Linked DNA regions of Homo sapiens. The protein of the gene in region 1 interacts with the protein of each later gene in a pairwise test. Each region holds a gene or a part of one and is shown in the gene's direction. Other genes may lie near its edges. The genes, in order: TGFBR2, ETS2, ITGAV, CSNK1D, SERBP1, ATXN3 and ISY1.

Evidence for each region.
Region 2: the proteins of TGFBR2 (region 1) and ETS2 interact in binary tests that used the Homo sapiens proteins (3 or more experiments, as listed by UniProt).
Region 3: the proteins of TGFBR2 (region 1) and ITGAV interact in binary tests that used the Homo sapiens proteins (3 or more experiments, as listed by UniProt).
Region 4: the proteins of TGFBR2 (region 1) and CSNK1D interact in binary tests that used the Homo sapiens proteins (3 or more experiments, as listed by UniProt).
Region 5: the proteins of TGFBR2 (region 1) and SERBP1 interact in binary tests that used the Homo sapiens proteins (3 or more experiments, as listed by UniProt).
Region 6: the proteins of TGFBR2 (region 1) and ATXN3 interact in binary tests that used the Homo sapiens proteins (3 or more experiments, as listed by UniProt).
Region 7: the proteins of TGFBR2 (region 1) and ISY1 interact in binary tests that used the Homo sapiens proteins (3 or more experiments, as listed by UniProt).

Annotation. Positions count from the first base shown.
Region 1 is NC_000003.12:30,668,825-30,673,174, forward strand, and holds part of TGFBR2 (TGF-beta receptor type-2 isoform B precursor), read left to right. Parts: intron 1-2,813; coding exon 2,814-3,613; intron 3,614-4,350. UniProt on the Homo sapiens protein: Transmembrane serine/threonine kinase forming with the TGF-beta type I serine/threonine kinase receptor, TGFBR1, the non-promiscuous receptor for the TGF-beta cytokines TGFB1, TGFB2 and TGFB3.
Region 2 is NC_000021.9:38,815,929-38,820,278, forward strand, and holds part of ETS2 (protein C-ets-2), read left to right. Parts: intron 1-1,079; coding exon 1,080-1,163; intron 1,164-2,496; coding exon 2,497-2,718; intron 2,719-3,574; coding exon 3,575-3,838; intron 3,839-4,350. UniProt on the Homo sapiens protein: Transcription factor activating transcription. Binds specifically the DNA GGAA/T core motif (Ets-binding site or EBS) in gene promoters and stimulates transcription.
Region 3 is NC_000002.12:186,592,648-186,596,997, forward strand, and holds part of ITGAV (integrin alpha-V isoform 1 preproprotein), read left to right. Parts: intron 1-4,350.
Region 4 is NC_000017.11:82,242,139-82,246,488, reverse strand, and holds the end of CSNK1D (casein kinase I isoform delta), read left to right. Parts: exon of another isoform or gene 1-17; intron 18-23; coding exon of another isoform or gene 24-125; exon of another isoform or gene 126-291; intron 292-449; coding exon of another isoform or gene 450-482; exon of another isoform or gene 483-513; intron 514-1,657; coding exon 1,658-1,708; 3' UTR 1,709-3,822; downstream 3,823-4,350. UniProt on the Homo sapiens protein: Essential serine/threonine-protein kinase that regulates diverse cellular growth and survival processes including Wnt signaling, DNA repair and circadian rhythms. It can phosphorylate a large number of proteins.
Region 5 is NC_000001.11:67,423,364-67,427,713, reverse strand, and holds part of SERBP1 (SERPINE1 mRNA-binding protein 1), read left to right. Parts: intron 1-1,428; coding exon 1,429-1,579; intron 1,580-2,490; coding exon 2,491-2,631; intron 2,632-2,736; coding exon 2,737-2,826; intron 2,827-3,391; coding exon of another isoform or gene 3,392-3,436; coding exon 3,437-3,514; intron 3,515-4,350. UniProt on the Homo sapiens protein: Ribosome-binding protein that promotes ribosome hibernation, a process during which ribosomes are stabilized in an inactive state and preserved from proteasomal degradation.
Region 6 is NC_000014.9:92,086,083-92,089,582, reverse strand, and holds part of ATXN3 (ataxin-3 reference isoform), read left to right. Parts: intron 1-765; coding exon 766-853; intron 854-3,500. UniProt on the Homo sapiens protein: Deubiquitinating enzyme involved in protein homeostasis maintenance, transcription, cytoskeleton regulation, myogenesis and degradation of misfolded chaperone substrates.
Region 7 is NC_000003.12:129,129,653-129,134,002, reverse strand, and holds part of ISY1 (pre-mRNA-splicing factor ISY1 homolog), read left to right. Parts: intron 1-3,366; coding exon 3,367-3,453; intron 3,454-3,814; coding exon 3,815-3,922; 3' UTR 3,923-4,350. Other genes in the region: ISY1-RAB43 protein, read left to right, coding at 3,367-3,453, 3,815-3,915. UniProt on the Homo sapiens protein: Component of the spliceosome C complex required for the selective processing of microRNAs during embryonic stem cell differentiation. Required for the biogenesis of all miRNAs from the pri-miR-17-92 primary transcript except miR-92a.

The DNA of each region.
Region 1 (4,350 bases):
CTCTGGTTACTAGACCCAAGATTTTCATCTAGAATATATAGTCAGTGGAAGTTGGCATTTCCACTCAGACTTACCTTAAGAACAAGTAATCATATTACACATAAACCTTAAAAATGGATATGTACCAGCTTCATTTCTCACTGTTTCGTTAGATGAAAGTTTCAGATGCTGGGCCAAGCGCAGTGGCTCACGCCTGTAATCCCAGCACTTTTGGAGGCCAAGGCGGGCAGATCACAAGGTCAGGAGTTCAAGACCAGCCTGGCCAACATGGTGAAACCCCGTCTCCACTAAAAATACAAAAAAAAAAAAAAAAAAAAAAAAAAAAAAAGCTGGGCATAGAGGCTAAGGCAGGAGAATGGCTTGAACCCAGGAGGCAAGGTTGCAGTGAGCAGAGATCGTGCCATTGCACTGCTGCCTGGGTAACAGAGCAAGACTCCATCTCGAGAAAAAAAAAAGAAAGTATCAGATGCTGAAGTAGCTATGTAGACTGGGGTATATAACCTGGGGTTCATCATCATGAGCCAGGAAAATTTAGGATATGAACACACATGAGGAGTTTAGGAGTGGAGGTTTAATAGGCAGAAGAGAAGAGAAAGAGAAACAATTCTCTCTGTAGAGAAAGGAGTCTCCAAGCGGAAAGGACGGGCCAGTGGTGAATGTGCTGGATTTTATAGTCCCGTTTGAAGAGGCGGTGTCTGATTTACATAGGGCTCACAGATTGGTTCAATCAGGTATGACGTTTACATAGTGCATGGGGAAGACTGGTCACCCCACCCTAATCTTATTATGCAAATGGGCTTTCCAGTTGATCAGCACCATCTGGTCTGTTCTTTGTTGTACACATGGCTGACAAAGAGAAGGGAAGATGGAGCTGCCATCTTGAACATGTCCTTAGTTCCTGCTGGCATTCACCCGTGCAAGCTCCCAGCTTGCCTGTCTATGTCTGAAGCTCAACTTTACAGGCTGCTCTTTGTTAGAAAATGATTTGGGGCTGCTTTTCATTAAAAAGAAACACCTTACCGAGGACTTCCATACCCTTACTATCTGCCCAAGTAATTTCTTCTTAACTCCTTTATCAGTATCATTTAGGTAATGGGTTCCCCTTGAGAGAATTTGGTTATATCCTCATTCTACCTGGACTATATTCTCATCACTTTTTTTTTTCTCTTTAAACACCTACTGTAGGTGAAAACTGACAAATGAATAATCAAAAGATCCTTTTCTGACACGGAGTTTGGTTCCATACCACCTACCCATTTTTTTCCTTTCTATTCCGCAGGTGCAGAGTGGTCAGTATGGGATAATTGCTCTTCCTTAAGTAGATCATATATTCTTTCTCCTTAACATAGCACTCTTTCCACTCATCACTGACTTTTCCCATTCTTCAGAGACCAACTTAAAGGCAGTTTTTTGCTACTGTGCCTTCCATGTTTCTCTAAGCTTTTCCACATTCCACTAATATATAGATTACATTGTACATTTAGCCCCTATCCCAGATGCCATATATTGCTTACTTGTATATATGCCCTAAGTCCTCTACTGGGTACTCTCTGAGGGCAGTGCCATGCCCATCATAGACACTCAGTAGTGATATATTTAATGAATGATTCTAGGATCTGAGCATGAGGCCTGCTCATTAATGGGTACTTTGGAGGGCAGATGGATGACACATAAAGCAATAGAATTCTGCATGTTTGCCCAATGAAAGCAGCCCAGCACAAGCTCCCAGTGAACTAGAGCTGCCTTTTGCTCTCTCCTGTCCACTGTCTGTTTCTATTCATGTCCTTCTTCCAAAAAGGAAAACTATTTCACCAGAGCCAACAAGGCCAGCACATGAAACAAAGTTTGAGGCACAAGATATTATAGTTAGATATCTGGTGCTAAGGACTCTCCTTGTCAGCCCACAGGGGCCTGCTTCAGAATTCCAAGTCAAAAAACTGCAGCATTTCCATTTTTAACTTGTTTTACCTTTGCGGCCATGTTTCCATTGTTGCTATTAAATATTTCAGTTCCATGAAACTACAATTCGTATGCACACTGAAAAGAGGAATGTTGGGTGGATGTAAGATAACTGTCCAAAGAGATCCTTTCCATGGACTCCTCTCCCTGTCACCCATGGGCCCAGGGTAGCCTGAATGCTGATCAGAGCAGAACAAGTTGGAGTTTGAAAAAGAGCAAAGATTTTGGTGCAAACTGTGGCACGCTCTGTGTTTTTACCAGATGTCATACATGCAGATTTTTTGAAGGCAGAAGCTGTGTCATTTTTTTTCATGTTCCCAATGTCCTGAGCTTAGATAACACTCAGTAAATGGTTTGTCTTTTTATTTGGCAATATTGAGGACCTGCTGTGTGCTAAGTGCAGTTTACAGTAGTGAAGAAGACATGGTACCTTCCAGCATGGAGTTCCCTGTCCGTGGGGGATGGCAAGAGTAGGGAAAGACAGATGTGAAATCAAGAGGTAGAGTCATAGTTCATTTAGTTTAAGTTGTACTGAATTGTTACCTAGGAAAAGTATAAGGTGCTATGAAAATGTATAAAATAAGACAGTTTTCCAAGTTTTTCTAGGCCTCTCTTAAGCAGTGACATTTAAGCTGAAGTTTGAAGGAAGAGCAGGGGATGACGAACAGATGGCCAGAGGCAGGGAAGGCTGAACGAGCATGCACTTGCATCCCTGAAATAAAAATTAACAATATCGTATCTACAAAAACTATGCAGATGCTAAAATCTATAGATGCTCAGGCATGAACCCACTTCCTGACAGTACTTACCTACCACATCCAACTCCTTCTCTCCTTGTTTTGTTTCCCCATCAGAATATAACACCAGCAATCCTGACTTGTTGCTAGTCATATTTCAAGTGACAGGCATCAGCCTCCTGCCACCACTGGGAGTTGCCATATCTGTCATCATCATCTTCTACTGCTACCGCGTTAACCGGCAGCAGAAGCTGAGTTCAACCTGGGAAACCGGCAAGACGCGGAAGCTCATGGAGTTCAGCGAGCACTGTGCCATCATCCTGGAAGATGACCGCTCTGACATCAGCTCCACGTGTGCCAACAACATCAACCACAACACAGAGCTGCTGCCCATTGAGCTGGACACCCTGGTGGGGAAAGGTCGCTTTGCTGAGGTCTATAAGGCCAAGCTGAAGCAGAACACTTCAGAGCAGTTTGAGACAGTGGCAGTCAAGATCTTTCCCTATGAGGAGTATGCCTCTTGGAAGACAGAGAAGGACATCTTCTCAGACATCAATCTGAAGCATGAGAACATACTCCAGTTCCTGACGGCTGAGGAGCGGAAGACGGAGTTGGGGAAACAATACTGGCTGATCACCGCCTTCCACGCCAAGGGCAACCTACAGGAGTACCTGACGCGGCATGTCATCAGCTGGGAGGACCTGCGCAAGCTGGGCAGCTCCCTCGCCCGGGGGATTGCTCACCTCCACAGTGATCACACTCCATGTGGGAGGCCCAAGATGCCCATCGTGCACAGGGACCTCAAGAGCTCCAATATCCTCGTGAAGAACGACCTAACCTGCTGCCTGTGTGACTTTGGGCTTTCCCTGCGTCTGGACCCTACTCTGTCTGTGGATGACCTGGCTAACAGTGGGCAGGTAAGTTAGAGCTAGTGCTAGATCCCCTTTACCTTGAGCCTGGCCTCACCCTACCTCTTGATCCATATCTCCTGGCTCTTATCTCAAACAGCCCTGTACTCTGGACACTGGTCTAGGGAATCTAGCCAAAGTATGGAGTCTGCCTTGAGCATACTCTGCTCTGTCCTGCCTGAGCATTTTTGCTAATGGACAGCATTTCTCCTCCTATCTTCAAATCCTTCCCAGTTCAGCACATTTTTTCCTCCTGGATCAATCCTCATTTCTCTTCCAGCAAATGTTTTTTCTTTGTTTCAAGCACTGTTAGTACTTTACCTCTATTTTTTCCCTCTCTTATGGTTGTACTCAGTCCTTTCTGCTCTATACTAGCTGTAGTTGTGTTGGTTTCTTTGTATTAAAAGCATCGTGGAAGGCAATCTCCCTGAAGTCCAAATCTACATCCACATGGTCACCCAAGATATGTAGCACAATGCCTTGAACATTGAAAGTAAAATAAGTACTTGTCGACTGAGTGAGCACTTCCACTCTTGAAGCACTCTCACAGATTAAAATGGAAATGTTTTTGGCTAAGAAACTATTGGAAGGTGATTGGAAATCACCACAACATCCCTTATAAATGATGAGCCCAGTGTTTTCACACAGTGGAGTCCATGGAGAGCAGCACTGTCTTCTTTAGCCAGGTGGCAGGACACACTTTGAAGCACTCGGTTACTGCTCAGTCAGCCCTGTGTCCATGGCAG
Region 2 (4,350 bases), on another chromosome or scaffold:
CTGTTGAAAGGAAGGAAGGAAGGAAGGAAGGAAGGAAGGAAGGAAGGAAGGAAGGAAGGAAGGAAGGAAGGAAGGAAGGAAGGAGGGAGGGAGGGAAGGAAGGAAGGAAAGAAAGAGGGAGGGAGGGAGGGGAGGGAGGGAGGGAGGGAGGGAGGGGAGGGAGGGAGGGAGGGAGGGAGGGAAAGAAATAAAATACAGTAGGGATTATTTAGGTTAAAAAAATATAAGAAAATAAGCATGTTTATAGAATTCAGGGAACTAGTCCTCACCTGACTGATTTTAAACACACTGAATTTCAGCATCAACTGTAGACTCAGAATCTCGAAAACACCTAGGATTCAACAGCTAACTTTTTTTAGTTACGGCGTCTGAGGGCCAGGGAAACTCATTTTTAAAGACCCTCATTTCTTCTGAACTTGGACAGGGCTTTTCTACCAAGTTTCTGGTGATCTGTTTATTGGCAAATTGGGCCTGTTTTACCATTCCTCGGGCCTGTGAGTTTGTGTGTATTTGGGTTTCCGGGTGGACGTGCACTTTGTAATATATTCGTAGTAAGTATGCATACACAGTGCACAAACCTTTTCCCTTTCAAAGTTCTTGGGCACATGTGTTCCCCATCCCAGACTCCCACAGCCCTGGAGACTTCCCACACCCTGGGGAAGCGTGCAGGTTTGGAAGCAGTGGAACTGTAAGCTTCACGGGGGCAGACACCATCCATTTTATTAATTTCCTGTATGCAGCCTCTGGTACAGATGGCATTTCATAAATACTTAACTGTTTCTTGAATGCATGAATGAATTCAATACACCATCTGGACCTTTTGCGATAGAAAATTTAGTGTTGCCAATGACATCATTCATTTTGGAAAATTTATTTTAGTAATTGGAAAAATGGGTTGCTTTCTCTCGTTTTTTGAAAAAGACAGGCAGGGACGTGGAGCACCATGAGATTAAATGTGAAGCACTCCGTGCATCTCATCATTCTAAAATTATCATCTCACAGGAATTCAGAAAGTCAATTTGTTCTGTGTAGTTTTCACCTACATCTGCCATCTTACGTCTCCTGTGTCTGCTTTTCAGAAAACCAAGAAAAGACAGAAGATCAATATGAAGAAAATTCACACCTCACCTCCGTTCCTCATTGGATTAACAGCAATACATTAGGTCAGTCCGATTGATTCTGCCCTTAAGAACTTTGTCTTCAGTCTTCCCAGTAGACTTGGAATCTCTCTACTGTAGGCTCCTAAGGGGCCACCTAGACCTGTGTGTCTCTTATGGTGGCCACACGTGGGTGTTGAGCTATAAGCCATTGAAATGTGACTGGTCCACATCGAGATGTGTAGGAAGAGTATAGTCATGCACACCAGATTTGGAAGTCTTAGTATGAAACAGAGAATATAAAATGTCTCCCTGATAATTTTTAATGTATTGATTACATATTGAAATGATAATTGCTATATGAGGCCAAGTAAAATAAGAAAATTAACTTCACCTGTTTCTTTTTGCTTTTTTAATATGGCCACTAGAACTTTCGCAGTTGCTTAAGTGGCTCACACGATCTTCCATAGGTCAGCACTGTTAGTGCTAGTCCAGGCAATTCTTAGAGCAAGGAGCAGAACGAAGTGAGCTGATTACCGCAGTCACCAGTAATGTTGGTTTAGTGTAGCAAACAAGAGGCGGCAGGCACAGAGTGCGTGAAAAGCAATTTGTAAACTGGCTCTGAACTTGGGAGCTTAAAGAGCTGTCATGGAATCTGGGTCCTTTCTTCTGGTTGCTGATACTGGGGAGGGCACAGGGTCTGGCCAGGCCAGCGAGGGAGGGGTCCTCGGAACAGCAGGCTTGGGTGGTGTTGGTCCGGCCCAGTGTTTTCTCTCTGGCCCCAGCTCCACCATTCAGACCCGGTGAAGCCCACCTCTCTGCCCCACTGGGGGCTTCCTGCTCAGGAGGTCTTTCTGAACATGACAGTGGGACACCCTGTGCCTGCCTGAACCTGAATCAGAGTCAGAGAGCTTCCTTCCCTCTCCAGAAAATAAATTATTCTGCAATGAACAGAGACAGGAGCGGTGTGATGAAGGAGCAGAAAGCAGAGTGGGCTGTGCCTCAGCACACAGGGTTCATGGCCTGGTTCTGCCCTTATGAATCACACAGTACATGACACGTCACTTGGTCTGTCTGAGCCTTACTCTCCTCGGAAGCTAAAAGAGCCAGTGAGCCCTGTCTTCCTGAAGGTCCCATGAAAGCACTAGGGTTGTAGAAATAGGAACATTGAGTCCTGCCTGCAGAGGCTGCAGTCATTTTGGCAGAGGGCTGCTGGTTGAGAAGCTGAATGGTTTGAGAAGAAGGCCTGGTGACAGACCCCCACCAAAGCCCGGGTCTCCACTGAGGTTCTGCAGAGGGCTGGAGTGTGCGGAGTGCTCACCTGTCATTTGCTCGTAGGGGTTAGTTACTGGGGTAACACTGACTTTAAGAGCTCTGCCGTCCGATTGTTCTGTTCCAGGTTTTGGCACAGAGCAGGCGCCCTATGGAATGCAGACACAGAATTACCCCAAAGGCGGCCTCCTGGACAGCATGTGTCCGGCCTCCACACCCAGCGTACTCAGCTCTGAGCAGGAGTTTCAGATGTTCCCCAAGTCTCGGCTCAGCTCCGTCAGCGTCACCTACTGCTCTGTCAGTCAGGACTTCCCAGGCAGCAACTTGAATTTGCTCACCAACAATTCTGGTAAGATTGGAAGCATCTTTCAACAAGGCTGTTGCTTTGATTCTGAGAACCCCAGAGCCATAATGAACCTCTTAATAAATACTTCCTGGATTCAGCCATTAGAGAAGGGGGTCAAAGCCCATGTTCTAAGTGGATTTCCAACAAGCATACCCCTAATATGTTTCAGGCACTGGCCCAGGTACTGCAGGCATTGAGTAAACAAAACAGTCCCTGCTCTTACAGCCAGATTTCTCCACACTTTGGGATATTTATGGAGGCGATGCAGGAATGTGACATTTCTTCTTATGGAGATGTAACATAAATACAGTGCACAAGTCTCAGGTCATGTGGCTGGTTGGATTTGTGTATGTATGTATACCCATGTAATAACCATCCAGATGGAGATAGAGAAGTTTCCAGTAGCCTGGAAGATTCCTTCGTACCCCTTCCCATCAATAATGTCCCCCCGACAGAAGGGAACGATTCTGACTTTTATCATTACGGATTAGGTTTTGATTTTCTTGAACTTTACATAGATGGAATCATAAGGCATGTTTTCTTTTGTGTTTGTCTTTTACTCATCATGTCTGGGATTCATGCATGTTGTTGGATGTAGCAGCCATGTGTTCTTTTTCATCGCTGTATAGTATTCCATTATAAGAATTTTATTCATTCTACTGTTGATGGAAGATAGGATTTGTGTAGTATAGTTACCCTAAGGAATAAGCACCTGAGTAGAGAGCATTTTGAGAAGTCTGAGTGGTTCTACACCAGCAGGTGCATGATTGCACTGGTAGTGGTTGGTGATGCTATGGTCGTGCCCAAGACCAACTGTGTCCTGGAGGAATCAAAGTATGTGTTTGGTTGTCTTTGCCAGGGACTCCCAAAGACCACGACTCCCCTGAGAACGGTGCGGACAGCTTCGAGAGCTCAGACTCCCTCCTCCAGTCCTGGAACAGCCAGTCGTCCTTGCTGGATGTGCAACGGGTTCCTTCCTTCGAGAGCTTCGAAGATGACTGCAGCCAGTCTCTCTGCCTCAATAAGCCAACCATGTCTTTCAAGGATTACATCCAAGAGAGGAGTGACCCAGTGGAGCAAGGCAAACCAGTTATACCTGCAGCTGTGCTGGCCGGCTTCACAGGTGTGTGTGGAACTCCGAGAGCCTGGCCGCCCAGTCTCCTGGGTCCTGTCCCTTGCTTCCTTTCGAGCCACAGTACCACATTCACCGAGGGTGTTTCTAAGCTAGGTACACCAGTGCTCTACACTCCATGTTTTATGCGTGGCTTGCTGTATCTCTGAATTCGACAAAAGCCACACTTGGAGGAATTTTCATGTACACAGAGCTCCATGGAATGAGTGAAAATTGACAGGCCACTCCCTCCACCTGGGACGTTCTGAGGAATAGTTGGAGCAGGGGACATGGCCTGTGCAGTCTTCAGCCCTGACTCACCCACTCCAAGAATCTCAAAGAATGTAAACTGGCTTAGGGAGGGGCAGCAGAGCCAGTCTCAAATAATATGGGCACTGTTTACCTTTTCTTGCTTCTAAAATCTATCTGCTCTTATTTTTGAGGTTTGGGTGAGAGCTATTCTAGGCAGTGGACAAATATAAAGCTGTTTTTAGAAACAGGTATTTCCAGTACTTTAGCGAAAA
Region 3 (4,350 bases), on another chromosome or scaffold:
GGGTGACTAATCTTTGGCCAGTCATTATAATCAATGAATGTGTTATGACCTCACAGGTTTACATGACTTCACTCATAGACCTTTAATGATAAAGTAAAATTGAACTTGGGTTTGGTTGCATATAATATTTTGAAATATTCATCAGCAACTTTGTTACCGATAGACTACAGAGCTCTAGGTATAGGTAACTTAAAAAATGGAAACCAACCTTGAATTTTTTTCTTTTTTCTTTTTAAACAAAACGTATATAAACACAGGTTTTTACTTACTGAGCTTTTCAGATTTAACAAAAATTTATGTAAAATTTTGCTGAATTTTCTAGAAGGGCACTTTAAATTTAACAAGCATTGGAATCCAAGGTACTTGGGATGCCATTTCCAATATTACCAGTTGGATTTATTGTTATTTGGTATTACCATAAACTTTTAAAAGAAAAAAAGCCACATAATGAAAAAGTATTTGTCAATTCAAGAGCGCCTTTCTTCTGAGGGGAGAAGGATTTGTGAGGAGCAGTGGTTGTGACGTCCACTCCTGTTGCTTTTTCCAGTTTTGGTGTCCACATACCTTGGGGAAGCTGTAGAATTATTTTATGCCTAATTTTTCTCTTTATAGAAAATTATTATTGAATTATCTGCATAGTTCATAGTTTTGTTGTGAAAATTAATGAATCAATATTTATTAAAGGGAAGGACAAAGTACTAAGCAAAATGTTAAGGCGGCCCCTCAAAAAATCACTCCAGAAATGAGTCAGGTTCGAAGTAAAAATTCACAAATATAGTGATTTTCAAAATTATGAAAAAACATTCGCATTCTGTTTTTTTTTCTATAAGCATTTATTTATGCTATGTTGTAAAACTTACATAAAATTTAAAGATTGTATGCAGGCTAATAATTAGAGTCATACTTTTCTTGTGGAGACTAATTGGAAAAATTAAAAATTACATCCTAGGTTTAATTATAATGATGACATCTTATTTTGGTAAACATATTTTATAATTTGCTAAGCACTTATATCTCATTTCATTCTATAGCCCACACCACCGGGGGGAAGTAAGGGGAAGCAGATATACTCATTCTTACAGATGAGGAGGAAATGGAGGCAGAACCGTTTGCAGTCTAGTTATTTGAGTAGGTTGGTGTGAGTAGAGGGTAAGGAAGGGAAGGATCCGAAGACAGGGTGTAAAATTCAAATCCCACTTTTATTAATTCAAATATTGAATTTTTAAAGAAAATAACTGAACAATTTTAAAATTCATTCTTCAAATATATGTTATACAGTTCTCATTTTATGTATTTCTTTATTTTAAAATAATGCTATAATGAATGACACTGGATTCTTGCCTTTCCCCCCATTAAACGCTAATGGAGCCTTATCTTACAGTTGGCAATGTGTAGATGTGTATGCCTTAGAAGCAGAAGGTCCTTCAATGGTTCTCAGTCCTAACTTCATGTTTGCAATATCTGGAAAGCCTTTTAAATAAAACTCTTGCCCTGGCTGTATCTTAAATCTAAAAGTAGATCTCTGACTTGATATTCCAGTGGCCTGGCCTGTGAATCATTTCTCGTTGACTAGCCTGTCTTAACTCAATTTGACTAAAAAGTCTTCACCAAGAGATGTTAGTTGCACCTCTGTTTCTATTAATGCTGGCATCATTTTCTCTGTCACCTTGGAAATACTTTCATATTCCTCCCTCTCATGTTCTATTTTTCTGTGTTTCTCCTACTTCACCACCTTAATATCAGTCAGTGATTAGTCAACAGGCAGAAGCTCCTAGAAATTCTTCCTTTTTAAGGTTTTCTTGATTCCATCTCTGCTTTCTACTCCTTATTTCAGTGTAGTTATGACAAGCATAGTCAGTGGCACTCAGGTCCTCCCCCATCCCTCTGCCCATCATTTGGCTCTTAAACGTGCAGAACATCTTGTCTGTTTCTATTCATTTTATCTTTCTGTAACATCCTTTTTCATCCTGGTATTCTGTTGCAAAAATTTTCATAATAAAGCTTCCATTGCCAGCAAGAAAGTCCAAACCGCTTAACATGGATTAAGGTCACTTGCAATCTGTCCCAACCTGTGTGTATTTTTAAAACTTCATGTACCATTTCTACTCTTACCATTTTAACCCTTTTCACAACACTTTACAAAATGATGCCAGCTCATTTTTTATAAACTTCAGAGTAGCTCTGATTATATTGGCTGATTTTTCTCATCATAAATAATATACATGTATATTAGGGGACATAAAACTAGGCTATAATTTTGTTATTTAGAAAGCAAATCCTATATTACTTCTGATTAAGGACATATGATGTTTCATAGAGCATTATGAAAGACAAGGGAAAATATGTGGAAATTGTAGTTACTGCTTCTGTTTTACAGTAGTTGTTGACTGGCATTTTTGTTTTTCTTTTGATTCAAAAAAGCATTTTTTAAAAAATGAAAAGTAAATCTGAAACTGGAATTGTAGCTTTGAAATAACATTCAGTACTATTTCATACACATTTATTTCTATATACATGTATGATAGTTTTTCAGAAGTTCCTTTTGGTGAAGGCTCATTGGTCAACTCAGAGTCAGCTAAATATATTAAACATGCTTTATCTTAGAAAGGTCAGTGCTGAAAGCAGACAAACAAGTTAGTTTATTTGGAGGGTTTGAAAAATGGACTTGTCATTGTTTGGCAGGTTGCCCCTCCTTGGTTGTCAAGGTCACATTCCGTGAATCAACTGCCCTTCAAGTACAGTTTGGATAGGGAGTGCATCCAAAGGCCATCCTCCTGATTGGTTCCTCTGAGCCTCTTGTCTGTCTCCCTCTCACTGCCTCCTCTGATACCTCTCCCTCTGTATCGCTCTCTCTTTTTTCTTTTTCTGTCTCTTGTCCTTCCTCTCTTTTTCCTTTCCTCTATCTCTTTTCTTCCTTTCCATCCATCTTTCTGTCCTCTCTCCCAAACTCAATCCTTTATATTTTAGCACTTCTTGGCATGGATGTAAACCTTAATTTTGAAGTCCCAGAGAGTTATTTAATGGCAGTGTTTCCAGTCATTAAAAAAAAAAATGTTGAGGATGGGGATTCTGATGATGTTCTTGGACATACTTTTTGGAGGGAAATGGAGTCTATCAGGAGAGAGTTGCGGGCATAGGAAATTAAGTCACTCAGCTTCAGATTTACACTGCTAATCAGTGAAAACTCTTGTCAACCTTACCTCACCCTGTGTATTCTCCCCACCTCGCCACCATTGATAAGAAATGTTTAAGCTGGCTTTTCTACCCTTCTTTCTCTTTTTCTTCTTCATTTGAGTTAATCACTTGACCATTAATGGCCCTTTGAAAACACTGAGGAAAGAAAAGCCCTTTTAAAGACAGAATTTAAGTTTTACATTTTCTACTCTTCTAGGGAATAACTTATTAATGGCATCAATTGTTTTCAGGACGAAGATGATAATTAAATCCCATCATCTTGTATTTTCGTGGTGTTTCAGATTTTCTAAGTTTGCATTTATTTATTATCACCTTCAGAAAGTTTCTTTTTAAAGTAATTACAGTGGGCATTGTTATTGCCATTCGATAGAAGGGAACAGAGATTCAAAGTTACTGCTTCAATTGATTTGCAGTGTTTGTAAATTTTAATTCCAAACTGTTTCCATTAGATAGTGCTGCTTAGATCACAAACATTTTTTTTCTGGTCTGTCAGTTCTCTTACCCTAATTAAGCTGTTGTACACTTTCATTAGTCATTCTTAGATGAAATTCAAGTAACAATTATTTTTATGGAGTGTTTTATTAACTTTGTTTTTTGTAGTATGTGTTGCTTTTTTTTTTTTTTTGAGATGGAGTCTTGCTCTGTTGCCCAGGCTAGAGTGCAGTGGCACAATCTTGGCTTGCTGCAACCTTCGCCTCCTGGATTCAAGCAATTTCTGGCTAACTTTTGTATTTTTAGTAGAGATGGGGTTTCACCATGTTGGCCAGGCTGGTTTTGAACCCCTGACCTTAAGTGATCCTCCTGCCTTGGCCTCCCAAAGTGCTAGGATTACAGGCATGAGCCACCGTGCCTGGCCTGTGTTGCTTTTTATTCCTTAATTTTTTTATATAGCATCTTTTATCACCTTGTACCCAGTTTTCTATGCAAGTATTTCTTTTTCACTACACAGCTTCCTCGTAAGACTTTAACATATGTCTAAGGTCATTTTACTTTCTCTATCTCTTCATTGTTCTCTTTAAAAAACTTAAATATCTTAATGATAACTTTAATATCGAGATGGCATTTTGGATGAAAAACTTCATCAGCTTTTTTCCCTCACAAATTTAGCATGTAGATATTGACACATTCCTTTTATATTATTCTGCCATTTCTGTA
Region 4 (4,350 bases), on another chromosome or scaffold:
AGAAGGCCTTGTCATTCCAACAGTCGATGACTCGCTTTGATCAACTCCTGCCCAGGACTAGGCCTGAGCCCTGTCGTCGTACCGGCGAGGATGTGCGTCTCCCCTGCCTTCAGGCTGTGCCCTGAGACCCAGTTGTGGGGCTGCCCAGCACCTGCCATCCTGCTGGGATCAGGTTTTCTTAGTGCTTGAGAAGACTCAGGAGGGCCTGTCCCATGCCATTGTTGGCCTTAAGAGCAAGTGATTCCAGAAGAGGAGTGGGCACCACTCTCATCCAGAGGCCCGTCCTGAGAGGCAAGTGAGGCTGTGCTCTGTGCCTGGGCTCCCCCAGGTGGCACCTGTCGGTCTGTGGACCTGGTTGAGGCAAGGATGCCCATCTGGACATGGAGCCGACACAGGTAGTCAGGGGGCCAGCGGGACGCTTACCAACAGCTGTCTTTTCCCCACCTCAGAATAGCATTCCTTTCGAACACCACGGCAAGTAGCTGCTCGTCTCCCATCGGAAGGCAGCACTGGGTGAGTGTGCGCGTGGCGGGCGCCAGGCAGCAGCGCCAGGTGGGTGGGAGCCACCATGCCCCACCCATGGGAGCTTGCAGGTGGGCTGGGCTTGCATGCCAGGTGCTGGAGGTAGAGTGAGGCTTCTTCTGCTCTGTTCTTCTTGTGGGGTGCAGAGCGGCGGCAGTCCGCTGCCCAGTCTTGGGGGGAGGCTGTCCACAGAGAGCTTTGGAACAGAGTGACCCCAGGAGACCATCCTGTTGGCCTGTGGCCTCCCCGTGACTGCGTTCCGTGTGCCGTTGCTCTCCTCCTGTCCTGGGTGCCCACCCGTGAGGCAGGAGTGGCAAGGCGGGTGCCCCGAGCACTTGAGTTGCCTTGTCTGCGGTCGGCCGTGCCTGGAGGGGCGTCTGTGTCCTGCTCAGCTGGGTGGCTCCACGCTTGGTGTTGGGGGCTCCTAAGCTCTTGCTGCGCCACACTCTGGGCAGTCTCTGCCATGCCAGCTTTTCTAGTCGCCTCTCTCTTCCTGTCTCATTTATCTCTGTCCTTGTTTTGTGTTTCTTTTCACACTTGGTCTCTGCCCAGCCGTCTTGTCCACGCAGCTTCGTCTGTATTAACTCCTCCAGCCGCAGCCCACTCACTCCCCGCCGTCGGTGCATGGCCGGCGTCCACGCTGTGCTCCCTCCTCGGCGGCCACGCGCGCTCGGCGGCTCCTTCCAGCAGGGGCTTGCGCTTCTGTCGGGTCTGTGCCGCTGGGAGACCCGCTGCAGTTTTCACACTGTGCACACTCTGGAAATGTGTTGACAGGAACTGCTTTTCATGTCTTCCCTGAGAGGGGTACCCATTTTCAAACACCAGGTTCCTTTCCAGGAAGGGAGGCAGGAGCACCCGTCTCCGCTCCACTCGGATCCTTCGACCCTGCCGAGCCCGGCTCCGCGGGCACCTTGCTTGCATGCCTCTTCCTCCTTCCCGTCTTCCTGTCACTCGTTCTGCTGAGCACGTGTCCCAGCCACAGAGGCCCCTGTGCGTGGCGGGGGACGCAGGCGTCTAGACTGGGGCTAGGCGGTGGCGGTGCGTCCCCTCCCTGCCCAGCACCGTCACTGTGGTATCTGCCTGGCCGGCTCCCCCAGCCCCATGCTGACCTTCTCCTGTGCTTTGGCTCCGACAGATTCCTGGTCGGGTGGCTTCCAGTGGTCTTCAGTCTGTCGTGCACCGATGAGAACTCTCCTTATTGCTGTGAAGGGCAGACAATGCATGGCTGATCTACTCTGTTACCAATGGCTTTACTAGTGACACGTCCCCCGGTCTAGGATCGAAATGTTAACACCGGGAGCTCTCCAGGCCACTCACCCAGCGACGCTCGTGGGGGAAACATACTAAACGGACAGACTCCAAGAGCTGCCACCGCTGGGGCTGCACTGCGGCCCCCCACGTGAACTCGGTTGTAACGGGGCTGGGAAGAAAAGCAGAGAGAGAATTGCAGAGAATCAGACTCCTTTTCCAGGGCCTCAGCTCCCTCCAGTGGTGGCCGCCCTGTACTCCCTGACGATTCCACTGTAACTACCAATCTTCTACTTGGTTAAGACAGTTTTGTATCATTTTGCTAAAAATTATTGGCTTAAATCTGTGTAAAGAAAATCTGTCTTTTTATTGTTTCTTGTCTGTTTTTGCAGTCTTACAAAAAAAATGTTGACTAAGGAATTCTGAGACAGGCTGGCTTGGAGTTAGTGTATGAGGTGGAGTCGGGCAGGGAGAAGGTGCAGGTGGATCTCAAGGGTGTGTGCTGTGTTTGTTTTGCAGTGTTTTATTGTCCGCTTTGGAGAGGAGATTTCTCATCAAAAGTCCGTGGTGTGTGTGTGTGCCCGTGTGTGGTGGGACCTCTTCAACCTGATTTTGGCGTCTCACCCTCCCTCCTCCCGTAATTGACATGCCTGCTGTCAGGAACTCTTGAGGCCCTCGGAGAGCAGTTAGGGACCGCAGGCTGCCGCGGGGCAGGGGTGCAGTGGGTGTTACCAGGCAAAGCACTGCGCGCTTCTTCCCCAGGAGGTGGGCAGGCAGCTGAGAGCTTGGAAGCAGAGGCTTTGAGACCCTAGCAGGACAATTGGGAGTCCCAGGATTCAAGGTGGAAGATGCGTTTCTGGTCCCTTGGGAGAGGACTGTGAACCGAGAGGTGGTTACTGTAGTGTTTGTTGCCTTGCTGCCTTTGCACTCAGTCCATTTTCTCAGCACTCAATGCTCCTGTGCGGATTGGCACTCCGTCTGTATGAATGCCTGTGCTTAAAACCAGGAGCGGGGCTGTCCTTGCCACGTGCCAAGACTAGCTCAGAAAAGCCGGCAGGCCAGAAGGACCCACCCTGAGGTGCCAAGGAGCAGGTGACTCTCCCAACCGGACCCAGAACCTTCACGGCCAGAAAGTAGAGTCTGCGCTGTGACCTTCTGTTGGGCGCGTGTCTGTTGGTCAGAAGTGAAGCAGCGTGCGTGGGGCCGAGTCCCACCAGAAGGCAGGTGGCCTCCGTGAGCTGGTGCTGCCCCAGGCTCCATGCTGCTGTGCCCTGAGGTTCCCAGGATGCCTTCTCGCCTCTCACTCCGCAGCACTTGGGCGGTAGCCAGTGGCCATGTGCTCCCAACCCCAATGCGCAGGGCAGTCTGTGTTCGTGGGCACTTCGGCTGGACCCCATCACGATGGACGATGTTCCCTTTGGACTCTAGGGCTTCGAAGGTGTGCACCTTGGTTCTCCCTTCTCCTCCCCAGAGTTCCCCGGATGCCATAACTGGCTGGCGTCCCAGAACACAGTTGTTCACCCCCCCACCAGCTGGCTGGCCGTCTGCCTGAGCCCATGGATGCTTTCTCAATCCTAGGCTGGTTACTGTGTAAGCGTTTTGGAGTACGGGGCCTTGAGCGGGTGGGAGCTGTGTGTTGAAGTACAGAGGGAGGTTGGGGTGGGTCAGAGCCGAGTTAAGAGATTTTCTTTGTTGCTGGACCCCTTCTTGAAGGTAGACGTCCCCCACCCGGAGAGACGTCGCGCTGTGGCCTGAAGTGGCGCAAGCTTGCTTTGTAAATATCTGTGGTCCCGATGTAGTGCCCAGAACGTTTGTGCGAGGCAGCTCTGCGCCCGGGTTCCAGCCCGAGCCTCGCCGGGTCGCGTCTTCGGAGTGCTTGTGACAGTCCTTGCCCAGTATCTAGTCCCCGTCGCCCCGTGCAGGAGACGTAGGTAGGACGTCGTGTCAGCTGTGCACTGACGGCCAGTCTCCGAGCTGTGCGTTTGTATCGCCACTGTATTTGTGTACTTTAACAATCGTGTAAATAATAAATTCATAATGACTTCTACCTTTCTTCCCTCCCCTTTCCATGTGGTCTTTATTTCATCAGCTTGAGAGTTTTCACTGTGTTGAGGTGAACTGTGTGAAAATACTTCTTTGAGATGGCTGTTTGTTCTTTCTCAGCCTGTGGGTGTCTGGGAGCTGGCAGAGCAGGAGAGCTGCCCCCTGGGCCTGCTGCCGGGCAGGGAGGGGTGGCGACTGCTCCTCGCCGTGCTGCCCCCTTGGGCTCTGTTGTGCACACAGAAGTCCACGCACTTTCTGTGTGACGGTTCTGGAGAGTCCCTGCCTTCTCGGGCGGCACCGGCAGCCGCACTCCAGCCGCCTGGGGTGAGCGCATGTCCCTTCCCCCTGCCATAGGGCCGTGGTGCTCAGGGATCCCCCTGTCGCTTGAGCTGTTGAAGCCCAGGAGCTGCCCGATGGCCCTGCACAGGCACAAGGAGATAGGGTTCCTCTTCCCCCCCCCCCCAGAGCACACAGCAGTGGCCCCTATCCAAGGCCTGCGGGGGCTGTCAGGCTGCCAGAGCAGGGAGGTCTGCACCA
Region 5 (4,350 bases), on another chromosome or scaffold:
CCAACTATTGTTCACTTGGGTGTGTTTGGCTTGGATATTATTGCAAGGACTGGTTCCATAACTCCACCCCAGTGCACTTTATTACTGATGACATTTATTTAAATACCTTGGTGTAAGGTCTAATATTTGTAGTCTATCTTGAGTATTTACAGGGAATGAACTTCAAAATTCTATTGAAGAGATTGATAGTTACTGTTTGGCTCCAGTTAACAGGCAGCAGAACAACTGGGTGTGTCTTGATGGTGTTCTACTTTCTTAGAAAGAACCAAAGTGAAGCAGCTTAAAATCTTGTAAAACCAATTCCTCAGCTGCTTTATGACTTTGTCAGAAATTGGGAATTAGAGCATACCAACAATCTTAAAGTCATTAATTTAACCATCAATCTGTTGATCCTTATGGGCACCAATAATTTAAATTGGTTGCCTTTGTGGGGTTTCAGACATTACAGGAAAAAAGTAGTAAAGGGGGAAATTAGTAAATGCTTCAGCTATCACTTAGTGTCACAAGTTTTCTTATTTCTTACATGTTGCTTAAAAGCGGTCTTAACGTGTGTGTATTTGGTTTTTAAAGATTCTTTGAAAATAAAGATAGTTGTTAGGGCAAATTTTTTAGAGGACTCTCTCCATGCATAATAAGTAACTGTTTCCTAACTTGGAAGTACTTAGGGATGTGGGAGTGTGTACAAACATATATACACTTACATGCTATAAAATTTTAAACTTTAATAGGGGAAGATGGCCCTTTTTGTGTGCCTGTAGCTAAGAAGACCAAAAGATGACACTTTTTCTGGTTAAATGGCTGTTTTAAACTGAAGTGATGTTCTCTAATAATCCTAAATGCCATATTTTCCTTTCAGATTTGTAATTTTATAGAATTATGAGTCTTAATTGCATTTTTTTTTCAGATTAGATAGAATAACATAGTGCGGCCCTCACTTTTGTGAGGGGCCATATCTAGTGAGTGTGTTGATTTGCTTGGTTATTTATGAATGGCTGCTGGTATTTTCTTTGGTATTTTAAAAGCCAAAATGTATTGCTTGCCTAAAATTTTTTAAATTTAAAAGTTTTTATTAAGAGACTATCTTGGAAAGTGACGGGAATAATGGTTGCCCAAATGATTTCCAAGTCAGTTATAGAAAATGCTTTTGAGGGGGAGAACTTGGCAAACTTAAATAGAAGTTTAAAATAAGTTTATTGTTTTTATTTTATTTATTTATGTATTTAGTCGGTGGTATGGATTGGAAGGTTTATTGTCTTTAAATGGCAGTTTTCCTAAGGTACTTTGTTACACATTAGAGTTGCCCAGTGTTTGCTTTTTTCCAACAGGAAATGGTAGTGGATTGGAAGAGAAGCAGCTTTTGACAGTCCAGGCCTAAAGTTTTTGGATTGCAAAAATAATTTGCTTATGCAGGTTATCTTATCGTTTTAGGAATAAGACGAGTTGGAAGAAGACCTGATCAACAACTTCAGGGTGAAGGGAAAATAATTGATAGAAGACCAGAAAGGCGACCACCTCGTGAACGAAGATTCGAAAAGCCACTTGAAGAAAAGGGTGAAGGAGGCGAATTTTCAGTTGATAGGTAAGTTGTTTCTTGTTTTTGAGCCAGGGTCTTGGTCTAACATGTAGGCTGGAGTGCAGTGGTACAAGCTTGGCTCACTGCAGCCTCTGCTTCCTGGGCTCAAATGATCCTCTCATCTCAGTCTCCTCTTGAGTAGCTCGGACTACAAGGTCACGCCACCACACTGCTAATTTTTTTTGTAGAGCTGAGGTCTCACTATATATATTGCATTGGCTGGTCTTGAGCTCCTGTGCTCAAGCTGTCCTCCTGCAATATTGGGATTACAGGCGTAAACCAAAGAAGTCTTCATATTTTGTTACTTTATAGAGTCACATTTTAATGTTAAGCTATAAATTGGGCATAATTGCCAGGTAGCAGTCTGGCTAATTGTTTCTATTAATTTTTCACAGAAACATCTGTATGTGTGCATTGTTAAGCTTTAGATCTTTGGGTAACAGTTCAAACTTAGGTCTCTTGTAATGGAAACACTTTGTTGAATTGATAACCAATTTCTTTTTCTTTCTCTCTCCAGATACAGAGTTAAAAGGAAAATACTGTTAGTTGAAGGAAAATACTGTTGGTTTATTGTTTATAGCAAATAAATTACTTATGCAAGTTAGATGTGTTTAATTTTTAAGTGTATTGGTAAATAGTGATGGACTGGATTATATGTGCAATGAATAGCAGTGGAAAAGTATATGCACTGGTAGTAATGCTTTAGAGTGCTAAAATAGTTTTCTTGTTTTGGGAGGCTGTCTTGTTCTGGTTTCCTTTGTGTTTAGAAACAGACTATTTTGAATTTTCTGAAGTGTATGTATTTAACTATTGGTTTTTGAGCCAGTAAACATGTTCTGTATTTTTGATCTTTTGGATGAATTTTCCTCATTTCTTCTGGAAACCATGGAAGTATAATTTATTTGTTTATATTATAGACCGATTATTGACCGACCTATTCGAGGTCGTGGTGGTCTTGGAAGAGGTCGAGGGGGCCGTGGACGTGGAATGGGCCGAGGAGATGGATTTGATTCTCGTGGCAAACGTGAATTTGATAGGCATAGTGGAAGTGATAGATCGTAAGTCTTACTGGTTTTTATTTTACTTTAATATTTTAATCTATTTAATAAACAAACTTTGAATTTCTAGAACTAAAGAGTATTATGTTAACTCAGTTTTGTTAGTTCTTTTTCACATTACAGTGGCCTGAAGCACGAGGACAAACGTGGAGGTAGCGGATCTCACAACTGGGGAACTGTCAAAGACGAATTAACGTTGGTATTCTGATTTTCTTAAAAATTCTATACCTAACTAGAGGTTAATCCATACCTCTGTCAAATTTTACTTGTCTCTGAGATAAGAATGAATGCTCTCTTCTGAGAGTTACTATATTACAAGATAATGTCTTATGGGATGGGTTTGGGTTATAGTATATTGAATGACCGGTTTTTTAATATTTCGATATATTTGTTACTCATTTTTTCCCCCCCATATGTATTTGTAGCTTTTCCTGAAACCCCACAATAAGGTTATTTGGGTATTCTGATTATCTTAGTGTCCTTAATAGTTCCTATTCTAGCTTTTGACTTTGTTGTCATTACAAAATTTGATAAGCTAGTAAAGCTTCATTTTATAATTAACTGCCTTGTTCTGTTACTTTTTAAGTATGAAGTATATGAACTAACTAGTTTATATTGTTTACTTTTCGACGTCTTCTGGGGAGTATATTTAGTAAGAAAGGAGTTAGAGAATGTGAGAGCTTATGGTATTTTTGTATGAAGAACTTTTCAGCTACATGTAAATGGACCTAGATGCCTTTCTTTTTCTTTCTTTCCTTAGAGAGTCCCCCAAATACATTCAGAAACAAATATCTTATAATTACAGTGACTTGGATCAATCAAATGTGACTGAGGAAACACCTGAAGGTGAAGAACATCATCCAGTGGCAGACACTGAAAATAAGTAAGTGGTATTGCGTGTAATAGTAATGACCCAGAATTGAAAGCACTGGAGTTTTACCAATAAGATAACCCATAGATTTAATGCTGTTACTTGATGGCTTTTTGTTTTTGACAAGGGAGACTTACTGTACCCTCATCCCTCAAAGAGTATTTGAAAGAATGCTTTTTTTTTCTTTTTTTAATAGAGACAGGGTCTCACTATATTGCCTAGGCAGGTCTCCAATTCCTGGGCTCAAGCGTTCCTCCTGCCTTGGCCTCCCAAAGTGCTGGGATTACAGGCATGAGCCACTGCACCCAGCCCTTAAAAGAGTGGTTTATGTGTATATATTTGACTCTAACGCTTTGAAAAATAGAATATTTTAATGTGGTTATTTCTGTTTGATTAGTCATTTTACCATTGTCATACAACTGTACAAATTTTACTTTGAGATAGTTAAAACTAGAAAATGTGGCCATTTTAACATTAGTTCTATCTTGAAGTTATTTCCAATGTAGAATTTGGAACATAGCATTACTGGCCTGTTTTTAAATGTATGAAGAGAGCAAAGATCAGAGTATGTTATTCACTATCTTTTTTTTTTTTTTTCTTTTTTTGAGACAAGATTTCATTCTGTTGCCGAGGCTGGAGTGCAGTGGAGTGATCTTGGCTCACTGCACCCTCCGCCTCCTGGGCTCAAATGATCCTTCCACGTCAGCCTCCTAAGTAGCTGGGACTATAGGTGCCTGCCACCAGGCCCGGCTAATTTTTGTATTTTTAGTAGAGACAGGGTTTCACCATTTTGCCCAGGCTGGTCTTCAACTCCTGAGCTCAGGCAAGCCACCCACCTTGGCCTCCCA
Region 6 (3,500 bases), on another chromosome or scaffold:
GCGGATCACAAGGTCAAGAGATCAAGACCATCCTGGCTAACATGGTGAAACCCTGTCTCTACTAAAAATACAAAAAAATAGCTGGGTGTGGCGGCGTGCGCCTGTAGTCCCAGCTACTCGGGAGGCTGAGGCAGGAGGATGGCATGAACCCGGGAGGCGGAGCTTGCAGTGAGCCGAGATCGCGCCACTGCACTCCAGCCTGGGCGACAGAGCAATACTCTGTCTAAAAAAAAAAAAAAAAAAAAAAAAAGAGTATTTAGCAGAGGCCAGGTGCAGTGGCTCATGTTTGTAATCCCAGAACTTTGGGAGGCTGAGGCGGGCGGATCATTTGAGGTCAGGAGTTTGAGACCAGCCTGGCCAATGTGGCAAATGTGCTGTCTCTAACTAAAAATACAAAAATTAGCTGGGTGTGGTGGTGCAGACCTGTAGTCCCAGCTACTTGGGAGGCTGAGGCAGGAGAATCACTTGAACCTGGGAGGCAGAGGTTGCAGTGATCCGAGATCATGCCACTGCACTCCAGCCTGGGTTACAGAGTGAGACTCTTCTCAAAAAAAAAAAAAAGTATTTAATAGTGATAAATCTGCAGTATTCTCTTGTAGTTTTTAAGATCATATTATTCAGTCAAAGAAAAGAGCTCAACTTGAAATATTTCCAGAGTTTAAACAATCTTACTAAGCTTTGATGGGTTGTATCTATTCTTAACATGTGAAACTTCCTTATTACCTATAATATACACTAACTTAAATATTGACAATTTTTTTCCAGTGGTTTAACTTGAATTCTCTCTTGACGGGTCCAGAATTAATATCAGATACATATCTTGCACTTTTCTTGGCTCAATTACAACAGGAAGGTAAGTAACGGCTGAACATTTTGTAATGTTACCTTTCGAAGTAGTTAAATAACCAGGCACATTAGATGACAGTGTGATAAAACTGTTTTTCTGGCAGTGGCAGTGAAACAATCTTTAGTTTTGACGTGGTGATAGGCTGTGATTTGGGTGACGCTGTTCAGTTAGAGTTCTCACTGACACCTGGCCCTTCCTCTTCTGAGGATGCTGCTTTCTTTGCAGCCCTTCTAAGTAATGGCTTTTTCTTTTATACATCACATATCACACGGCTGAGAGGAGGGATAGATGTTTTTCTTCTTTGCCTCTTCTAGGCCACTGTTCTTCCTTATAAACTCCAGTTTCTTTGAAATACATGCCCCTAACGGCTGGGCACGGTGGCTCACGCCTGTAATCCCAGCACTTTGGGAGGCTGAGGCAGGCGGATCACGATGTCAGGAGATCGAGACCATCCTGGCTAACACGGTGAAATCCTGTCTCTACTAAAAATAACAAAAAATTAGCCGGGGTGTGGTGGCGGACGCCTGTAGTCCGAGCTACTCGGGAGGCTGAGGCAGGAGAATGGCGTGAACCCAGGAGGCGGAGCTTGCAGTGAGCTGAGATCGCGCCACTGCCCTCCAGCCTGGGCGACAGAGCGAGACTCCGTCTCAAAAAAAAAAAGAAAAGAAAAAAAAAAGAAATACATGCCCCTAGATTAAACTATCCCTTGTCCTTTTGCACTCATCCACAAGTCTCTTTTCATCAGTGATTTTAGGATCTGACTCGTTGTCTTTTTCTCTACTTCAACTACTTTTATCATTCTTAATTATTTCTGTATCGTCAATCAATCCAGTACCTGCCTCTTAGTTTCAAAATCACTTACTCTTGCTTAGCTATTACCAGTAATCATAACCACTGTCAAATCTCAATTGCAAGCATATTACTCTTTAACTACCACCTCCTATCTTTAAACCATGTTTTGTCTGTTTTTTTATTCCAGCCATTCTTTAAACCCTACTGTGGGGCCCAAGCATTTCCTTTATACGCATTCTTCCTTTCTTCTACTGCTTATTTTCTGTAATCCGTCATCATAATCACTCCATTGCATTCTTCAACGTGTTTCCCCTCTCTCCCTCCATCATACTTGAATGACAAAAATCTCAACCCTGGTTAAACCACATCTTGGCCTTGTCCATTCCTGTACCAGAGTAGCTGGACGTGGCTAAAAAATAACATAAAACATGATGATTGGTTTTACTTTTTTCTTAAATGATCTATCCATCCATTCACCCATCCATCTATCAAAGTGACTAGGCCTATTTCTGAAGCCCAGGCTGGAGTGCAGCAGCATAATCACAGCTCATTGCAGCTCCAAACTCCTGGGCTCAAGTGATTCTCTTGCCTTAGCCTGTTGAGTAGCTGGGACTACAGGCTTGTGCTACCACACCTAGCTAAGGTTTTACTTTAAATTTATTATAATCACAAAATTCAGATGAGCCTTTAGTGCTGTCTGATATTTCTACTATGTTTTCTTAGTGATGTACCACCCTCCAAGGTGTTTATAAAAAATTATGTACCACTCTCCAAGAAGTTTATAAAAAATAATGTGCCACCCTCCAAGGTGACTAATTTCACAGCTTATGTCTTTAAACCTTTAAGCACTTTCCTCTCCCTTACACACCTTCCTTGTGGCTTTCCGTTACATTCTGCTGAGAACATAGAAGCAATTAAAATTATGTTCTTTCTACCAGCAAATTTATCAATTTGCTTATATCTTCACCTGTGCTTTGAGCCTATTTAAATAGATGAATGGTCCCCTACCTCTAACCAAAACCAGTCCCTCACTTGTGGGCTGGATCCCAGCTCTTCTCACCTACTCAAGATGTTCCTGCTTTCATCTCTCCACTCTCTTATATAATCAGTTCCCCCCCCCTTTTTTTGTAATATTCCTATAAGCAGTAAAATAAGCTTTTTATTTCCATTGATTAAAAATAAAAATCCTCTCTTAATTCCATGAAACTCCAGCTGCCTCCCCATTTTTATTTTTTCCTTAGGATTGTCTCTAGTGTGCCTTCTCCTTTTCTTGAACTCTGCCTCCTGGGTTCAAGCGATTCTCCTGCCTCAACCTCCCGAGTAGCTGGGATTACAGGCGTGCACCACCATGACCGGCTAATTTTTTTTTTTTTTTTTTGAGATGGAGTTTCCCTCTTGTTGCTCCGGCTGGAGTGCAATGGCGTGATCTCGGCTCACCGTAACTTCTGCCTCCTGGGTTCAAGCGATTTTCTTGCCTCAGCCTCCCGAGTAGCTGGATTTACAGGCATGTGCCACCATGCCTGGCTAATTTTGTATTTTAGTAGAGATGGAAGGGGTTTCTCCATGTTTGTTAGGCTGGTCTCCAACTCCTGACCTCAGGTGAGCCGCCCACCTCGGCCCCCTAAAGTGCTGGGATTACAGGCATGAGCCACTGCGCCTGGCCCCGGCTAAATTTTTTTTTTTTTTTTTTGTATTTTTAGTAGAGACAGGGTTTCACCATATTGGCCAGGTTGGTCTCGAATTCCTGGCCTCGAGTGATCCACCTGCCTCAGCCTCCCAAAGTGCTGGGATTACAGGCGTGAGTCACCTTGCCTAGCCATCTTTTAGTAATGGTATTTGGAGATCACAATTTGAGTGCTGG
Region 7 (4,350 bases), about 98 Mb from region 1:
TTGGCTCCCAAATACAGAGTCAGGGTTCACAGCCCAGCTTGCTCACCTGCAGGATGGCTGTGAAAACACTTGCGAGATTACAGGAGGGTTTCAGGAGGCAGCAGCCATGAGAGTGCCCTGCCGGCCGTGCTTTACACCAGGGCTTCCTTCTTTCCTTCTTAAAGACAGGCCCTTCTGCATACACTAGAATTAGACTGATAAACACAGAGGAAGCCATGAGCTTTAGCCCATGACCTCATCACTTCTGTTCACGTGTCAGTGGCAGTTGCTCTTCTGTAGTCTAACACCCCCATCTTTTTTATTTTTTTTGAAACGGAATCTGGCTCTGTTGCCCAGGCTGGAGTGCAGTGGCACAATCTTGGCTCACTGCAACCTCTGCCTTCCGGGTTCAAGCAATTCTTCTGCCTCAACCTCCCAAGTAGCTGGGACTACAGGCGAGTGCCACCACGCATGGCTAATTTTTGTATTTTTAGTAGAGACGGGGTTTCACCATATTGGCCAGGCTGGTCTCGAACTCCTGACCTTGTGATCCACCTGCCTTGGCCTCCCAAAGTGCTGGGATGACAGGTGTGAACCATTGCTCCCAGCCCTAACACCCCTGTCTTACACATGGAAAGAAACGCAGAGCAGAGAAGAAACTTTCTTAGAGGGTCATGGTTGGGGAATCTTTGCATATTTTCAGACCTTTTGCATATTTTCTGATCTTTTGCATATTTTCTGATTTATAGGAAATACTCATTATATATCTTAGTTATTACTTTTTATTATAGCCACCATGTAAGTAATCTTGACATATCTGTCTGTGCTACACCTTTTATTTTTTCTATGAAACATTACCAAAACTTCACTGCATTAAAGGAGGTATTCTGAAACAAGGAAAATTCAACATTTGAAATCTCTGCCTCCCAGGCAGAGCTCTTCTGCGGGGCCCTATATTTGGAGTCCTTGCTGCCTGCACAGGTCTAGGTGGATCTGATTTGCTGGACTGAGAGAAGGGAGGGGATCACCCACACATGGATGATGGCTCAGGTTCCACATGAGGAGCTTGCTGAGACATCACTGGTGAAGAAGCAGGCTCAGGTTTAGTGACTTAATGTCACATGGGATATAACAGGCCTGACGTTCCTGCTCATGTCCAGCTGGGCCAGCACTGGGGTTCAGTGCAGGTCTGAAGCAGGATGGCAGCATGCCTTAGGAGGATTTCCTCTAGGTACAAATATTCATTTGCTCTCTCAGCAGGTGTTTAATTCATGGCTCCTGTGAGCCAGCCGCATTCCAGGTGCAGGGGCATGGTGGTACAGAGGCTTGGAGTGTAGCTCATAGTCCAGGGGGAGGCAGTCCAGTAAGAGAGACAGTGAGCAACAGTCCCTCAATAGAGCCTGGTGCAGGGACAGCCTGCAGACACTCTGCTGGGAAGCTAAACCCTCAGCTGAGATTAGGATGATCCAGCGAACTTAACCAAGGAAGGAGGAGATGAGAGAGGGCTCCCAGCAGGGGCGCATCATGTGCTGAGAGATCCTGTGATGAGTGTGAGAGACAAAGGACAGCCCAGTGTGCTGGAGTGCAGAGAGTGGGTGCTGGGTGTGAGTGGAGGCTGATGGGGAGCTGGCGTTGTGGGGAAGAGCAGTGGAAACCCACAGCAGAATTTTTTTTTCTTTTCAAATAATTATAGAGATACAGGAAGTTGCAAAGAGTACAGAGAGATCTTGTGTATGCTTCACCCAGTTCCCCCCAGTGGTTGTATCTCATGTAGTTCTAGCACAGTAGTAAAACTGGGAGGTTGACATTGGCATATTGAGTGTGTGGAGTTCTGTGTCATTTGTCTCCATGTGTGGAGATCCATGTGGCCATCATGACAATCCAGATACAGAACTGGCCGGGGGTGGTGGTCACACCTGTAATCCTAATACTTTGGGAGGCTGAGGTGGGAGGATTGCTTGAACTCAGGAGTTCAAGACCAGTCTGGCAACACAATGAGGCCCTGTTTCTACCAAAAATAAAAACAATTAGCTAGGTGTGGTTGGACATGCCTATAGTCCCAGCTACTCAGGAGGCTGAGGTGTGAGAATTGCTTGAGCTCAGGGGGTTCAGATTACAGTGAGCTGTGATTGCACCACTGCACTCCAGCCTGGGAACTGTCCCCTTACTACAAAGATCCCTGGTGCCACCCCTTCACAGTTCACACCTCCCTGTCCTCACCATCTCTTCTCCTAGCTGAACCCTAACCTGTTCTCCATCTCTGATTTTGTCATTTCAGAATGTTTTATAAATGGGATCATGCTGTGAGTCACCTTTCACGATGGCCTTGACACTTAACATGATGCCCTTGCCATCCCTCTGGTTGTTGAGTTCAATAGTTCATTCCTTTTCACTGCTGAGTGTTGTTCCATATACAGAAAAGTACACACCTGCTAAATGTGTAGGTCACTGGATTTTCACAGGGTGAACACACACACACATAGCAAATACCAGTGAAGAAACAGAACAGGACCACAGCGCCAGAAGCTCACTACTGCCTCAGGGGTCACCCTCCTGACCTCTTGTGACCCATATATTTCACTTGTGTCTGAACTTTACATATGTGAGTCGTGTGTACTCTTTTGTGTCTAATGTTTGTGGGTATTTGTGTTGTGTCCAGATTGGGGTTTTGGCAGATAGGGTTGCTGGGAATTTTCTTGTTCCCGTGCAGTGTTTCTCTTGAGTACATGCTGAGGAGTGGAACCACCAGATCAGGGTAGGTATGTGTTTAGTGTTAGATACAACCAGTTTCTCCAAGTGCCAGCAGTGGATGAGAGGTTCCTCAAGAGGCTTTTGAAGCCATCCCCACTGGGAGCCAGTCAGGGAATGGGTCGTGCACGGTGTCTGGCAGAGCCCAGCAAACAGTGGACTCCTGACTCGCCACAAGACCCCTTCTCTCTTTCCAAGTCCGTGGTGTTTTCTTTGTTATTAGAAATTTGTATTGACTCATAGGCAACCTCTGAGCTGATTATTTTTCTATGCATGGTACATTCTTTTACATTTAAATTTTTTAAAATAGTGATACATTCACAAGGTTCAAAAGTGAAAAAGAATATAAAGATATTCCACAAAGATTCTCTTTCCTCACCCTGTCCCTCATCTACCTTGGTCTCACTGCCGTCAGTAATTTCTATTCTTATTTCCTCCTTAGACAAAAGGTAGCATAATATACAGCGTGTTCTATGGCTTTTTTTACTTAATCTTGTGGGTCAAGTGTCTTTCTATAAGTATAGAACTTTCTTAGTTTTTTTTTCTTTTAAATAGTTGCAGAGTAGTGTGTTTTATAGAGTTGCCAGCATTTATCTAGCTGGGCGCCTACTGATGGACTTTCGTTTGTTCTGTTTGTAGTCGGACGAGGAAGGCAGCCAGGAGAAAGGAGGGGACGACAGCCAGCAGAAGTTCATTGCTCACGTCCCTGTTCCCTCGCAGCAAGAGGTAGGACCACAGCTAAGAGCTGCCTGGGCGCCGGGGGCTTCTCTAAAGCAGACTTCACAGAGCACTGTAGTGGGTTTTCGTTGTCCTTCCTACCCATCAGGGCAGCTCAGGGTCCTGACCACATGACACCTGTCATTGTGTTCAGGGTGTGGGGTCCAAAAAGGGCAGGACCCTCTGCTCTAGGCCATTCTATCGTTCAAATGTTTCCAATGGGAGGGAGTTAGGACTCTTGGAGACTATTCTGCGTATTTAAATCAGACTCCTTGATGGACTTCTCCCACGGGGACTTCCTCCTGGCTGGGTCTGGCAGGGGTTGAGGGGCTTTGCTGAGGAGTGAGCCCTGCACTCTTAATTTCCACAGATTGAGGAGGCACTGGTGCGAAGGAAGAAAATGGAACTCCTCCAGAAGTATGCAAGCGAGACCCTGCAGGCCCAAAGTGAAGAAGCCAGAAGGCTCCTGGGGTATTAGGACCCAGCTGGGGCTCTCCTTGGAGTTCTTCCATCCCCCAGTGGTACCTCAGGACCCAGGGCTGCAGACACAGGCTGGTGCTGCAAGGGCTCCTGCCCCATTCTCAGCCTTCCTTCCCTCTCCTTGTCTCATGTTGACCGGAGGGTAGGGGTCTGTCCCTGGTCTTCCTGGTAGGTTTTGTACACATATTTTGCTACTGTGTGGATCCATTTATTTTTATTGTGGAGTGTATACAACAGGTTGCGAACTGGCTGCCTGTGTCTTATTTTGACTTGCACTGCCATTTTGAGGGGAGAAGAATCAATTAGTGGCAAACATTTAAAAATGCAATTTTTTGCAGACCAAAGTATAATTTTAAAAAATGCAAATTTTCTAAAAGACACATCTCTTGAAAAATGAGATGATGTGGCCAGGCGCAGTGGCTCACG